Linked DNA regions of Homo sapiens: regions 2, 3 and 4 are each reported to be linked to region 1. Evidence: microRNA targets listed by miRTarBase, many of them from high-throughput screens and not tested one by one. Region 1 holds a microRNA gene; each other region holds the end of a gene's coding sequence.

Region 1 (3,090 bases):
ACCATATTGCCCAGGCTGGTCTCAAACTCCTGAGCTCAAGCAATTTGCCTGGCCCGGCCTCCCAAAGTGCTGGGATTATGGGTGTGAGCCACCGCACGTGGTCCATATTTTCATTTGAAACATAAAAATAGCCTTGGCATTCCTTAATTACTCCTCTCTCCTCCTTATGAGGAGAAAGAACAGATTTACTGGAGATCCAGGCAATAACAGGCTCTTAAAGAACTTGAAAACAAGATTACTGAGCCCTGTTGAACCAATCACACAAAAGTCTTGGTGCAGAATTTATAGGTCAGTGGGTACAAGTTAAGGCTACCTCTCCAGAGGTTCAATGGTACCCAATGCACCCATCTGCCTCATACCATCTCCACTCACCTAGACCTCTTTTGATCACATTCTCCCCTCCCTTTACATTCACCCAGAAGCCAATGGTTTGATAAGGAGAGGACATCACATTTATGTTGTCCACTGTTTTGTGACTGAGTTTTTTCAACTATTATGGTGCCATCTTTCAGTATTTATTACAGCCTATACACATACAAAAAATGTGAACATCTATACAAGATTTGAATATAAATAATTACCAACTACAAACATTTTAAATATCCAGAAATTTTTATCCCTCAAGTTAGAGAAAAAGACAATGTTTTAATTTATAAAAGGCCAACTCTCTGATCATCATAAAAACACAGCTCACAGCCTTGATCTCCTGGGCTCAAGCTGGTCTCAAACTCCTTCCTGGACTCAAGTGATCCTCTTGCCTCAGCCTGCCAAAGTGCTAGGATTATAGGCATCAGCCACTGTGCCTGGCCTAATGTGCCTTATTTTTAAGTATGCCTACCATTAAACTTTTACTTTAAATTAATATACTTGGTTTGGACTTGAAAAAAATAAAATAAAACCCAAGGAAAACAATAAAAAGAGCAAGCCTCATCTTTGGAGTACGTTCTTTCCAAATATAAACTCCTAACCCGGAACTTACTGCACTGTCTTTCATAACCAGCCGTTTATGAGATGTCAACAGCTTTTCCAAAGGGTAAACAACTCGCCGCAGGTAACTCTCATCCTTGTGGTTATCATACAGCCACTGAGCATCAAGCACATCATGCATTGTCACCATGTGGTCCTGAAAAGCAGCCATGTATGAAAATAATTCAGTTTATTTGTATCTCAGCCCATCAGACCCCAAACTTCCTAAAACTGAATGTCACTTGTTTACTAGTCCAAGCTCATTATGTCTTCAGCCTCTTCAGTCCTGGCTCTTCCAGGCATCTTTTTTTTTTTTTTTTTTTTTTTTTTGAGACGGAGTCTCGCTCTGTCGCCCAGGTGGGACTGCGGACTGCAGTGGCGCAATCTCGGCTCACTGCAAGCTCCGCTTCCCGGGTTCACGCCATTCTCCTGCCTCAGCCTCCCGAGTAGCTGGGACTACAGGCGCCCGCCACCGCGCCCGGCTAATTTTTTTTGTATTTTTAGTAGAGACGGGGTTTCACCTTGTTAGCCAGGATGGTCTCGATCTCCTGACCTCATGATCCACCCGCCTCGGCCTCCCAAAGTGCTGGGATTACAGGCGTGAGCCACCGCGCCCTCTTCCAGGCATCTTTAACCGTTGAAGTATTAGACCCCAAGCAGGCATTTTTGTAGGCTGGGAGGCAAATGAATAGAATAATACTTTCTACCCAATCATCTCCCTTAGCCCATTTTAATGTCCCAAAGTTTAATTAACAGAACAGGGAAGCTGCCCTGGACTGAACTCAACACTTTGGAAAGCATCTTTCCCACGACATGAAGCAAGTGGAGTGCCATCAAAGGCTGGCAGATGGTAAGAACCAGCTCTAAAACTTCTAGCCCCGTAACACATACCTTTTCACTCATGACTCCAGAACGAACCCTCCGAAGCTCCTGCATCTGACCACCAACTCCCAATAACAAACCAAGGTGCACACATAATGTCCGAATGTAGGTGCCAGCCTCACAACTCACCCAAAAGATTCCTAAGATACACACACACAAAAGAAAAGCAGCACCTACTGTAAATACATCACTGGTTGAGAAATGCAGTTATCCTTCATCTGAGCCACCAAGACTAGAGGTGACAGACACACTTCTTAAAATATAAGCATTTGCTGTAAAGATCTGTAATTCTGGCCAGGCACGGTGGCTCACGCCTGTAATTCCAGCACTTTGGGAGGCAGAGGCGGGTGGATCACGACGTCAGGAGATCAAGACCATCCTGGCTAACATGGTGAAACCCCGTCTCTACTAAATGTACAAAAAATTAGCCGGGCATGATGGCGGGCGCCTATAGTCCCAGCTACTTGGGAGGCTGAGGCAGGAAAATGGTGTGAACCCGGGAGACAGAGTTTGCAGTGAGCCGAGATCATGCCACCGCACTCCAGCCTGGGCGACAGAGCGAGACTCCGTCTCAAAAAAAAAAAAAAAAAAAAAAAAAGATCTGTAATTCTGATATTAGCAGAATTTTTAACACTTAAGTTGCAGGTATATTCAGCATGGTATGTTTCATGGATGGGAGGAAAATTGGCATTGTCTTAAATTTACTTCTGACAACAGAAACTTCTAAGCAGTCAAAATTGCAACAAATAAAAAACACATGCAAAACATACTTTGGTGAAAACACTTACCTTTGAACAAAGCACCGAACTACACAAATGCAGAATGAAAACATTTCAACTCCAGCAGAAGCAGTCATCATAAAAGGTGTAAAAGCCATCTCACTTTACTAGGCACTGTTCACTTTTTCAACAAAAGATAACAAAAACTATCGCCCACAGACAATATCCCAGCTGTAGGGCAGGTTTTAGAAAGTCTTCAACTTCAAGGGCATCTACTTTTAATAAGAGAACAGAATCCTGAAGAATGTGTTCATACCCACTCACAGGCCTAATGACTCACCTAATCTTCTTTCAGGATCGTATTCAATCATTTTGCTCTCGTAGATGGTCCTCACTCGGAGCTGCCTCTTTACTGCAGCAATAAGTGGGGGTCGCTGGAATAAGGCACCTGTCAGAGTTTCTAGGGCCTAAGAACAAACACAAATGAAAACAAACACCTCATCAGAATGTACATGTGCAGTCA
Region 2 (3,090 bases), not on the chromosome of region 1:
AAAAATATTCACCAAGGGAAAGGAAACCACTAGGGCTTCAAAGCAGAAATTAGCCCAATAGACACCAATTATATTGAGGTCCTGTGAAGCTCCGTGGGAATTTAGGTGTATTGAGTCAGTGGCATTTCACTGTGGCTGTCTCCCCAAGCCAGGTTCCATTTGGAGGATCCTAACATGTGGTCTTTGCCTAAATTCCAACTCTGGAATTGTGTTTCACACCTGCTGTTTTGCTCCCTCCAGGATTCAGACTATGAAGAGACATATTGATGAAAGTCTGTATGACACAAGAAGAGTCACCTAAAGACAGGAAACATCCCATTCCACTGGCAGCTAAAGCCTGTCAGAGAAAGTGGAGCTGGCCTGGACCATAGCGATGGACAATCCTGGAGATCATCAGTAAAGACTTTAGGAACCACTTATTTATTGAATAAATGTTCTTGTTGTATTTATAAACTGTTCAGGAACTCTCATAAGAGACTCATGACTTCCCCTTTCAATGAATTATGCTGTAATTGAATGAAGAAATTCTTTTCCTGAGCAAAAAGATACTTTTTGATTCATCTTTGCTCTGGAATGTATTACATGTTTTCTTCCAACTGTTTGAAGGAGAATTTTGAATGTTTGCCACACCGCTGATACCCAAATAATTTTTTAAATGAAGTGGAGCTTGTGGCTTCCTGATGTGTCACCAGACAAAATATTCGCTTGGGATATGTATTCTTTGTTTTTTGCTCCATGTACACTTTCAGCTGTGAGTTAGTATAGGGCGTATACTTACCGGTTTAATGACCTCAACCTCAGTTGTGTTTGGATAACTTAGGGTGTATACCCTTAGTTTCCTTAGAGTTGGTAGGATCAAGTCATTGGTTTGCTTTGACTGGGTTTTTAAAGTATTAAGTACAGTGTCATCAATTTACAGTTAAGGAAAGGAATCGTGAAGTAGAAAAATTATTTTCTTTAGTCTTGCTGGTACAATTTGGGCTAAGGAGTCTTTGTTATTTTCTGTCTTGCTTTTTTTTTTTTTTTTTTTTTTTTGAGGCAGAGTCTCACTCTGTCGCCAGGCTGGAGTGCAGTGGTGTGATCTTGGCTCACTGCAACCTCTGCCTCCTGGGTTCAAGCGATTCTTGTGCCTCAGCCTCTCGAGTAGCTGGGATTACAGGCATGCGCCACCACACCCAGCTAATTTTTGTGTTTTTAGTAGAGACGGGGTTTCACCATTTTGGCCAGGATGGTCTCAATCCCCTGACCTCGTGATCCACCTGCCTCGGCCTCCCAAAGTGTTGGGATTACAGGCATGAGCCACTGTGCTTGGCCTGTTATTTTATTTTCTTATAACTACAACTTTTCTTCTTGAATTTTCAGGTCAGAGGCAAGAAAAACTCTTTACAGGTTTTTAGTGGGGGGCTTATGGAGTATTTCAGGAGTTCTTTGCAAATTAAATCATCTTTTCACTTGTATTGTTTTTCAAAACTTTGTTGATTTCTAAAATGTGCCAACTGTGAGTAAACTATGGTATTTGCAAGTGGTTTTTACATAATATTTGAGATGAGGAAGTGAGATTGTGCATGACATACTTCTCCTTTGTATTCTCTCAGTGCCTTACAGCAGGTTACTCCATTCTGCTATGACAACTTGTTTCAAATGTTAATTTACATAGGATTTTTTATAAGCCATTAAGGCATATGTATAGTATATCAGTAAAGATGGATGGTGCATATATAAATAGTCTTCTGTAATAGTGATTGGATTTACTTCTCAATTATGAGAGACAAAAATTATCCCCTCACCTGTCTCTATTCTTTCAACAGGTTGATCCCTTTTCATGATTTTTCATTAGGTGGTTCAGGAAGTTTCCATATTACAGCGCTTCAGACTGTATATGTTAGTTTAAAAATCACTTTTCTCTCTCTCAACTTCTTTCTTTTTTTTTTGAAGACTTAATTTAAAAAATTTGGGTTGTTAGATCCGTATCATAGATTTGGCCTAGCCTCTTCTGTTAACCTAGTCCACAGATGAGCGAATCTGGTTAGTTGAAGGACATTGTGATTTGACTCTGGTCACGCGAGGAAGTAGAAGGGCAAAGACAGGACCGGCAGTTTACATTTCCAGTGGTTAAACCTCACGGTACTTTGGGACTGCTTGTTAACTTTTGTGGTTGTCTGAGGCCAATCTAACGTGACCATTTCTGACACCTCAACAGAGAGAGGAAAGCAACTTGAGCAATGAGAGTAAATAACTTGGGCTCTCAGAGATTTGAAGATAGAGATCTCATTGTGAGGGGGACTATTTTGCAGGTCCTCATTTCTCCAAGAAAGAGATGGTGTTACAGGAACCCACTGAAAGCCATATCCCATTAAATGAGGAACTAATTTTGGCTGGGCCTTCTTGTAATGTCCTCGCAGGTGTGTTGTGAAGATTAATGCAGGGTAGTATGTTTGTAGATTGACACCTAGTCTAAACTTGAGGTAATTGGTGCTCTGTGAATACTCAGTCGTGTTCTTTTATAGCCTTAATCATGATTTGAACTAGTCCCTTGCTTTTTAAATGACTGAATGAAGTCCTTCGTGGTAAGGGAGTACGTTGATAACTTAGTTTACTATATGGGTTTGTGGTCGCATCCCAGTCATCAGCTGCTATCATTTTCCTTCTTCATCCCTTATACTGAGATTTGGGTTACAGCTTTTTATTCTTCGAAGGATCACAAAGCAGTGTACAGACACCTGCCTTCTTTAAGGATGAAAGGAAGATAAAGTGGTCTTTTTTTGTTTACTTATTTGTTTCACCTCTTGTTTGAGTAACTTCTAAGGTGCTATTCTCTCTCTCTTTTTGCTACCTCATGAGCTCTTGTCACAGCCATGGAAACCAGCCTCGTTTAGAAAGGGAACTTAGTTCAGAAGGGGTTAAAAGCCTTCCAGAATTTTTCTTTAGCTGCTGAAGTTTTTACATGTGGTTACATGACTTTAAGTTTTATGCATTACGCTCTTAATTCTATTACAAAATGTGGACTCACCAATTGCTTTGTGTTTTCCATGTGACCTGTTACTTCAGGCTACTTGGGGAACATCTTAGTCCTCTGTAGCTCCTGAACCC
Region 3 (3,076 bases), not on the chromosome of region 1:
AGGAAAGCTGCCCCCGAGGTGCTGGCCTCCCCAGAGCAGTACACAGACCCCTCTAGCAGCGCTGTGAGCACCACCGGCTCTGGGGACACAGAGCAAACCTACACTTTCCATGGGGCCCTCAAGGAGGGGCCCAGCTCCCTTTTCATCCACATGAAGAGTATCCTGAAGGGGACTAAGAAGCCCAGTGCCCTCCAGCCCCCCAACACCCTGATGGAGCTGAGCCTGGAGCCAGCCGACTCCCTGGCCAAGAAGAAGCAGGTGCACTTTGAAGACAACTTGGTCCGCATAGTCCCCTCCCTCGCCGAAGGTCTGGATGATGGGGACAGTGAGCCAGAGGAGACCACCTCTGACACGACACCCATCATTCCCCCTCCCCAGGCCCCACTCTTCCTGTCATCTCTTACAGCCACCGGCCTGTTCTGAGCGCTTGCTCCAGCCTGGAGGACGCTCAGTGAGGGGTCTACCTAGCTCAATGGCCCTCCCTGGAGTTTCAGGGTCTTCTCTGGTCAGCTTTTCAAGGGGTAACCAGACACCCCCACACTGGCTGGGCCCCTGAGGCCATCAGGAGGTGTGACTGGCCAGCATTTCTGGAGAGGCCTCGAGGGAGGCACAAACAAGGCTCACGCCACCTCAAGCCAGCACAAGCTCCTTCCTCCTGGCCACAGGTGGGGAAACCCTTATGCTTCCCCAACAAGACCATCACTGCCACTGCGCACGAGGCTGCAGGTGCCATTGACTCAGCCCAGAAGGGACAGAGGATGTCTGCCCAGCAAAAGCCTCTGGGCTTTTCTTACTCCCAACCCAGGGCACAACACTCAGTGAGGAACCTATGGTCCACCCATCTCTGCAGGCCCAGGGAAGTGTCAGTAACTTAAGCATCTCTAAGGCAGAGAAGGTGGCTGTGGGTCTTGACCAACCAAGACTGCTCAGGGTCGGGAGGGGAGGCTGCAGGCCTCTGGTGGGAGCAGCCGGGCCGTGGGCCACATTCTCTGCATGCTCTAGGGCTGGGGCTGAGCTGCTCAGGAAAACAATGCCGCTCTGTGCTCACTGTGGGAAAGCCAGGCCAGATGAGCAAAGCTCATTCCAGAAACATGGCTGGGGACTTCCAGCCTCCTTACCACATGGCCTTTCCAAGATTCCAGGTTGATGATGCAAACTGAACGCAGTGAATGCCAGGGCCCAGAAGGCAATGTCTGCTGTGGGCAGGACCACAGAGGCTGCCCAGGGGTGGCACAGCACAGAGAAGTGTCAGTGCCGTGTTTAGGCACTTGGTAGCAGAATAGGTGATAAATATAAATGTCTTCAAAATGAAAGGAAGTGAGGGGGGAAGAAGAGGAGGGAAAATGGGAGGATAGGAGGAAGTGGGCAGGCAGGCAAGTTCTCTGCCATGGGGCCACGGAAGTGACAGTTAACCCAGAAGGAACAAAGACATCTGAATCAGATATTCCTTTGTAAATCTGTAAAGGATTTGCAATATAGGCTTTACTTCTAAAAATTGTTGTCGGGTCCATGAGGCTGTTGCCAGGAAGAGCACACACACCATTCTTCATGGCAACTGCAGTGAGGGAGCAGTCAGGAGGAAGAGTCCTGTGGCTTCTCAGTCCCTGTGGAGGCTAACGCAAAGCTCTGTAGAACAAGCCTTAGAGTGCATGCTCTATGGTCTAATGAGAAACTTGTGTTTGTGCTTGCACACGTTTCAATGTTCCCTACAGGATATTTTACAAAGGTATGAAAATAATGGCCAACCAGAAGCTAGTATCAGTTTGGGGCCTAAATGCAGCAGGTGTTCCTGATAAGCAGATAAGCAGAGCTCTTCCTGCAGTAGCCCAGGTCTCACCAAATGACAAATGGCTAATCAAGACACTCCTGCAAGCCCTTGATGGTGAGAGCTGCAGAGCTGTTTCTTCAGCTGCCATCAAGGCAGGACCTCAGGACCTGACTGTCTACAGTCAGGGAATAGTGAACAATATGGGATATGGGTATAGGTAGGTGGTAGACAAGGATCGTGCCCCATGGCTGATGGGCCGGGTGTCTCAGGCAGGCCCCCTGTGCACAGAAAGAGCCTAAGTGCAGAGAAGCCAGGCATCTTTCCCCTGTCAACTGTGGAAGGGGAATGTGATGGCCACAGACACCCTCATGGCACAGACATGGCCAGCCTCTGACGTTCCTCTGCATCAGAGTAGTTCTGTCCTCGAAGCCCCAGTCAGCAGAGCTGGATGACCAGATCGCAAGAAGCAAACCAGAAAGTGTGATGGCAGAGATGTCAGATCCCGTTTAATAAACACTTCAGTAAACCCAAGTGTGGAGTGTTGTTTTGGGTGTGTTTTAGAGATGTGTGTTGGGAGCACCCTTTTGGAGGTGTCTTAGTGTGTGCCGGGAGTTCCAGTGATGATGCGATGGAATTCTGAGGCACATAGGCTTCCTGGAGATTGTCATCAGTTAAGAGAGTGTCTGCTGGTGTGCAGCATTACAGGACAATTATGATCTTACCTAGGTTAGTAAAGTTCTCAAACACTCTTATGGCTACAAAACAAAAACAAAAAGCTGGAGTGAGATCATTAAATAGGCCAGAATTCTCACCCATCAGTGGACCAAGCAAGAAAGTGGCATCTTCCTCATAAGCAGATGAGCACCACGTGTCTCCATTGATTCTCAGCCTGTGACCTCTATGACCACATCCTTGTCCAGAAGAATCCCTGCAAAGCAGATGTTGTAATGATCTGCATCCTTGCCAAGAAGCAAAGACTAGAAGGACTGGCCCTGCCATGATCCCCCTCCCTACCTCAGCAGAGAGGGGAGCATTTTGTATATGAAGAACAGAGTGACAGGAAGAAGAAAGAGCACCAGGCTGAGCACCATTCGACCTCCACTAATACACGTCTGACCTTGTTCAAGCCCCTTCGCATCTCTGGCTCAGGTTCCCCTATTAAGTGCAAATCACAGCAGTAACTCAACAAGACATGGGCAAGTGCTTTTCAGAACTACAAACAAGTCACTGTGATTGCACTACATCCCTATCCCTACGGGGGACTCGCCGTGAGGGGGCACTGAGGAAGCACCACCCTGACTTGCGTCT
Region 4 (3,076 bases), not on the chromosome of region 1:
ATTATAATACAATTTTCATAATGTATGTTCTTTGGTTGTACATGAGGAGTACAGGGAAAAGATATATTTGACTCTAAAGATGCGTATCAGAAATAAAAATTACCCATCCACTGTTTGTTGTTAAGATGCCAAAGCTGGTGATTTCCCTAACAGACAATGAAGAGAAACAAAATTGCTCAAAGCAGCAGTATTGTAACAAATAAAAACTTCTCTAGAGACCCAGCACATATAATCAACACTTAAAGCATTCTGAAAAAGAAATAAGGCCTTGGAAAATGTTTCACTCTCCTCCATTACTTGGTTAAATAAATGGTGTCCTGGCCTGATGTTGCGGTTGTACATACCCTTTCACTAGTGTTTGAGTGGCACAAGCCACATTTACCATGAGAAAGAAGAGATTTATTCATAAAAATGAATTTAGGCTGAATGGCTTATTATTGGAGGTAAGGGATTTCAAATCTCTGTTCGTCACTGTCCACTGACAAGAAAAATCACCCTGAATGGTTTTACATCCAATTTTTTAAAAGTCCATTGCTGGTACAATTCAAATGCCTCATTCAGAAAATTAAATCTTTTAAAATACTAAACTAATAAGAAATGTAAGCCTGAATGTTTCAGCAAGTAATAAAATGCACTGACACATCTGCTACCCCTCAAGAGGCAAAATTAAAGAGAGGGCAGAAGACACCAGAAAAATTTTAGTCACATCCGATGAAGAAAATGACATGAGAACCTCAGAAGGAAAGGAAAAATAACCAATCAGGGATATAGCTGCACGCAAGATGGACTTAATGAATGAACACGTGTTCCCCATGTATACCTTTTGTACAAATATCAATGGAGACGACTGACTTGTTGAGGTGATGACGCGCTATGATACCAGGGAGTGTAGGTTTCATGGTGCAGTGTAAAGGTGCAGTGGATTCCAGGGCAAACCAGTCAAATGTGCTAACATTTTCCACTCACAGTAAAGTATTCTCCCATAGTCCCTTCCTGCTAAATTATACAGCTCCTTTTATCTAATGTATATAAGTCATGTAAAAACCTAAACCTGCTCATTTTTTCTTTGGTAGAGAAATTAAAAAACACTTTTTGGGAAAGAAAAAAGTAGACAAGAATTCTGCTGGCCAAAACCAAACATTTCTCAAGGCTGTTAAAACAAGAAAACAACTTAAGAATATCGGTCTCTTAGTAAGCAAAAGCACCAGAAATCCTTCTCTACAAAGAAAAAACATCTGATTTTACAGATAGGTTCCCAAACTACTAACTTCTAAGGCACCAGAGTTGACATCAATACAACCCAATTTACAGGACTAAAGAGCATAGGTAGAAGTCTGAAAGTTTTAATCATTCTGTGTAACACTTTGTCTAACGCTCAGCGATGCTCTAGGTGAGCAGTGGGTGAGGGCAGAGAATGAGGCGTGTGTGCTCCTTCTCATGGGTGAGCATCCACGTATACTGCTCACAGGCTTTGGGACGTACTTGTGTACTGCCCACTTTTACACAAGCTGCAGCAGAACTCAGTTCTACTGCAGGTGAGAGTATTGCACCATCATTAACATAATAAGGACCTCAGAATCCAACCTTGCCAAAGAATTCAACTCCTAGGCTCAGATTAATGGAAGTGCTGGGCACATGCCACCTCCTGCCATTGTCACAGTTCAGCTGTGCTGGCCCCGACACAGCTCCAGTTCCACCCATGACATCTGGCTGAGGAGGCTTATGGGAGCGGCTTCTCATGCACAGTTACTGTCCCTCTCTGGAGGGTCCTTTAATGGGGACTGTGCAAAGCAGTGACACTAACTGCCAGTACACTCACTTTTCTGAGGTGAAAATAAAAAGGTTTATTCAAGGATAAATGAACTCTGGTTAAATTACTACTTCATTTTCATTACTACTTCATATATTAGATTTCAGAGTGTGTGAGATGGACAGTGTATTCTGGAAATTTTAATTTAACACCCATCCACAAATACTTATTTCAAGGAAGGCTAATCATCTTCATTAAATTGTTCACTTTTTCGTGTAGACTTTTTCTCTCCATGTTACTAAAACAGGGAGATCCACGAGGCACATTTTTTTAACCTCGCAAAACTCTTAATTCTAACTTAATTACTAAACTCTGCCTTCAACCAAATTTTCAATATCTTTTTGTAAAATACTTTAAAAATCACTCAGACATTAACAAAACACAAAAACAACTCTTCTCTAATCCTGACCTGTCCTTAAACTAATCTAATTACGGCTGACTCGTAACTGACAAAAACATTCAAATTTCTCTAACACACTCAAACAACAGAAAACCCAGCATATTTTAGGTGGCAGTTAGCCGTTACAAGAAGTTTTATTAACATATTCTCTAATAATCACAAACCTATACAGCTATGTTCAGTATTTTCAAGGAGAGTGACTTCTTACAAAACGTTTATAGCCAATCATGGGATTTTGCTAGAAAACGATGGCATATGCAATGACAGATTTGACAGTTTAATCAGAAAAATGGAATGATAGAAATGAAGCAGACTCCCCACCTACTGTGCTAACTGGGTATGCAACAGTTTAATGAAATACCATAAGCCTTAGTTGGAGACTGTGATGGAACAGCGTAGAGGCCATCCGTTTCCAGGCCATTCTGAGATCCAAGATGCCAACTCCTTGTTTCTATGAAACTTCACGAGATGTGCCAGTCAGAAATGGCATGCTGAACATTCTGCAGAGCTGCAGCACTGGCCTGGGCAGCCAGGGCTACCACACTGGTGACAGTGCTGCTGGTACCTGTGATGGCTCTTCTGGTATCCATATCTTATACACAACACCTATCCGTAGGAAGAACTTCCGCAGAACTGCTCGGAGCTCAGGGATCAGGTCAAACTGCATAATTTCACACAAGTAGGGGTAGTACATTGAAGCATGTGCTTTGAACTTGAGGTGGGAGAGAAACAGATAAAATTAGACAATTTTTTTTTTTTTTGGGCACCAGTTTTTCAGAAGTGTTAATCTCACCCTGGAACTTATTACAATATTGGTGCTTTTCTTGCTATTAGAAAGTTGGGGCCGAGCGCAGTGATTCACGCCT

The links. The annotated mature microRNA hsa-miR-664b-3p reads UUCAUUUGCCUCCCAGCCUACA and lies in region 1 at 1,634-1,655, opposite strand. An mRNA with a match to its seed (bases 2 to 7 or 8) in the 3' UTR can be bound and repressed. Matches are read on the target gene's strand: a 7mer-m8 pairs with bases 2 to 8, a 7mer-A1 pairs with bases 2 to 7 and ends in A, and an 8mer does both.
Region 2: miRTarBase lists MPZL3 as a target of hsa-miR-664b-3p. Seed matches in the 3' UTR shown: 7mer-A1 at 654-660.
Region 3: the mRNA of TMEM72 is a reported target of hsa-miR-664b-3p. Seed matches in the 3' UTR shown: 7mer-A1 at 1,306-1,312 and 7mer-m8 at 1,838-1,844.
Region 4: the mRNA of ARFGEF2 is a reported target of hsa-miR-664b-3p. Seed matches in the 3' UTR shown: 7mer-A1 at 1,882-1,888.

The regions. Positions count from the first base shown.
Region 1 is chrX:154,767,200-154,770,289 of GRCh38, reverse strand. It overlaps MIR664B (microRNA 664b), which reads right to left and starts at 1,694; the gene lies at 1,634-1,694. DKC1 (dyskerin pseudouridine synthase 1) reads right to left here. Exons shown (of 15, transcript NM_001363.5): 7 at 2,908-3,034; 8 at 1,858-1,988; 9 at 980-1,123. SNORA36A (small nucleolar RNA, H/ACA box 36A) reads right to left here and starts at 1,762; the gene lies at 1,631-1,762.
Region 2 is chr11:118,227,071-118,230,160 of GRCh38, reverse strand. It overlaps MPZL3 (myelin protein zero like 3), which reads left to right. Exons shown (of 6, transcript NM_198275.3): 6 at 241-3,090. The coding sequence ends at 267. Among named protein-coding and RNA genes, the nearest start is that of JAML, 3.6 kb to the right of the region's middle.
Region 3 is chr10:44,934,712-44,937,787 of GRCh38, forward strand. It overlaps TMEM72 (transmembrane protein 72), which reads left to right. Exons shown (of 5, transcript NM_001123376.3): 5 at 1-2,299. The coding sequence ends at 423. The region is part of intron 1 of TMEM72-AS1 (TMEM72 antisense RNA 1); the gene reads right to left. Among named protein-coding and RNA genes, the nearest start is that of TMEM72-AS1, 23 kb to the right of the region's middle. RefSeq lists an enhancer at 870-1,164.
Region 4 is chr20:49,032,869-49,035,944 of GRCh38, reverse strand. ARFGEF2 (ARF guanine nucleotide exchange factor 2) reads right to left here. Exons shown (of 39, transcript NM_006420.3): 39 at 1-2,922. The coding sequence ends at 2,746. Among named protein-coding and RNA genes, the nearest start is that of CSE1L-DT, 12 kb to the left of the region's middle.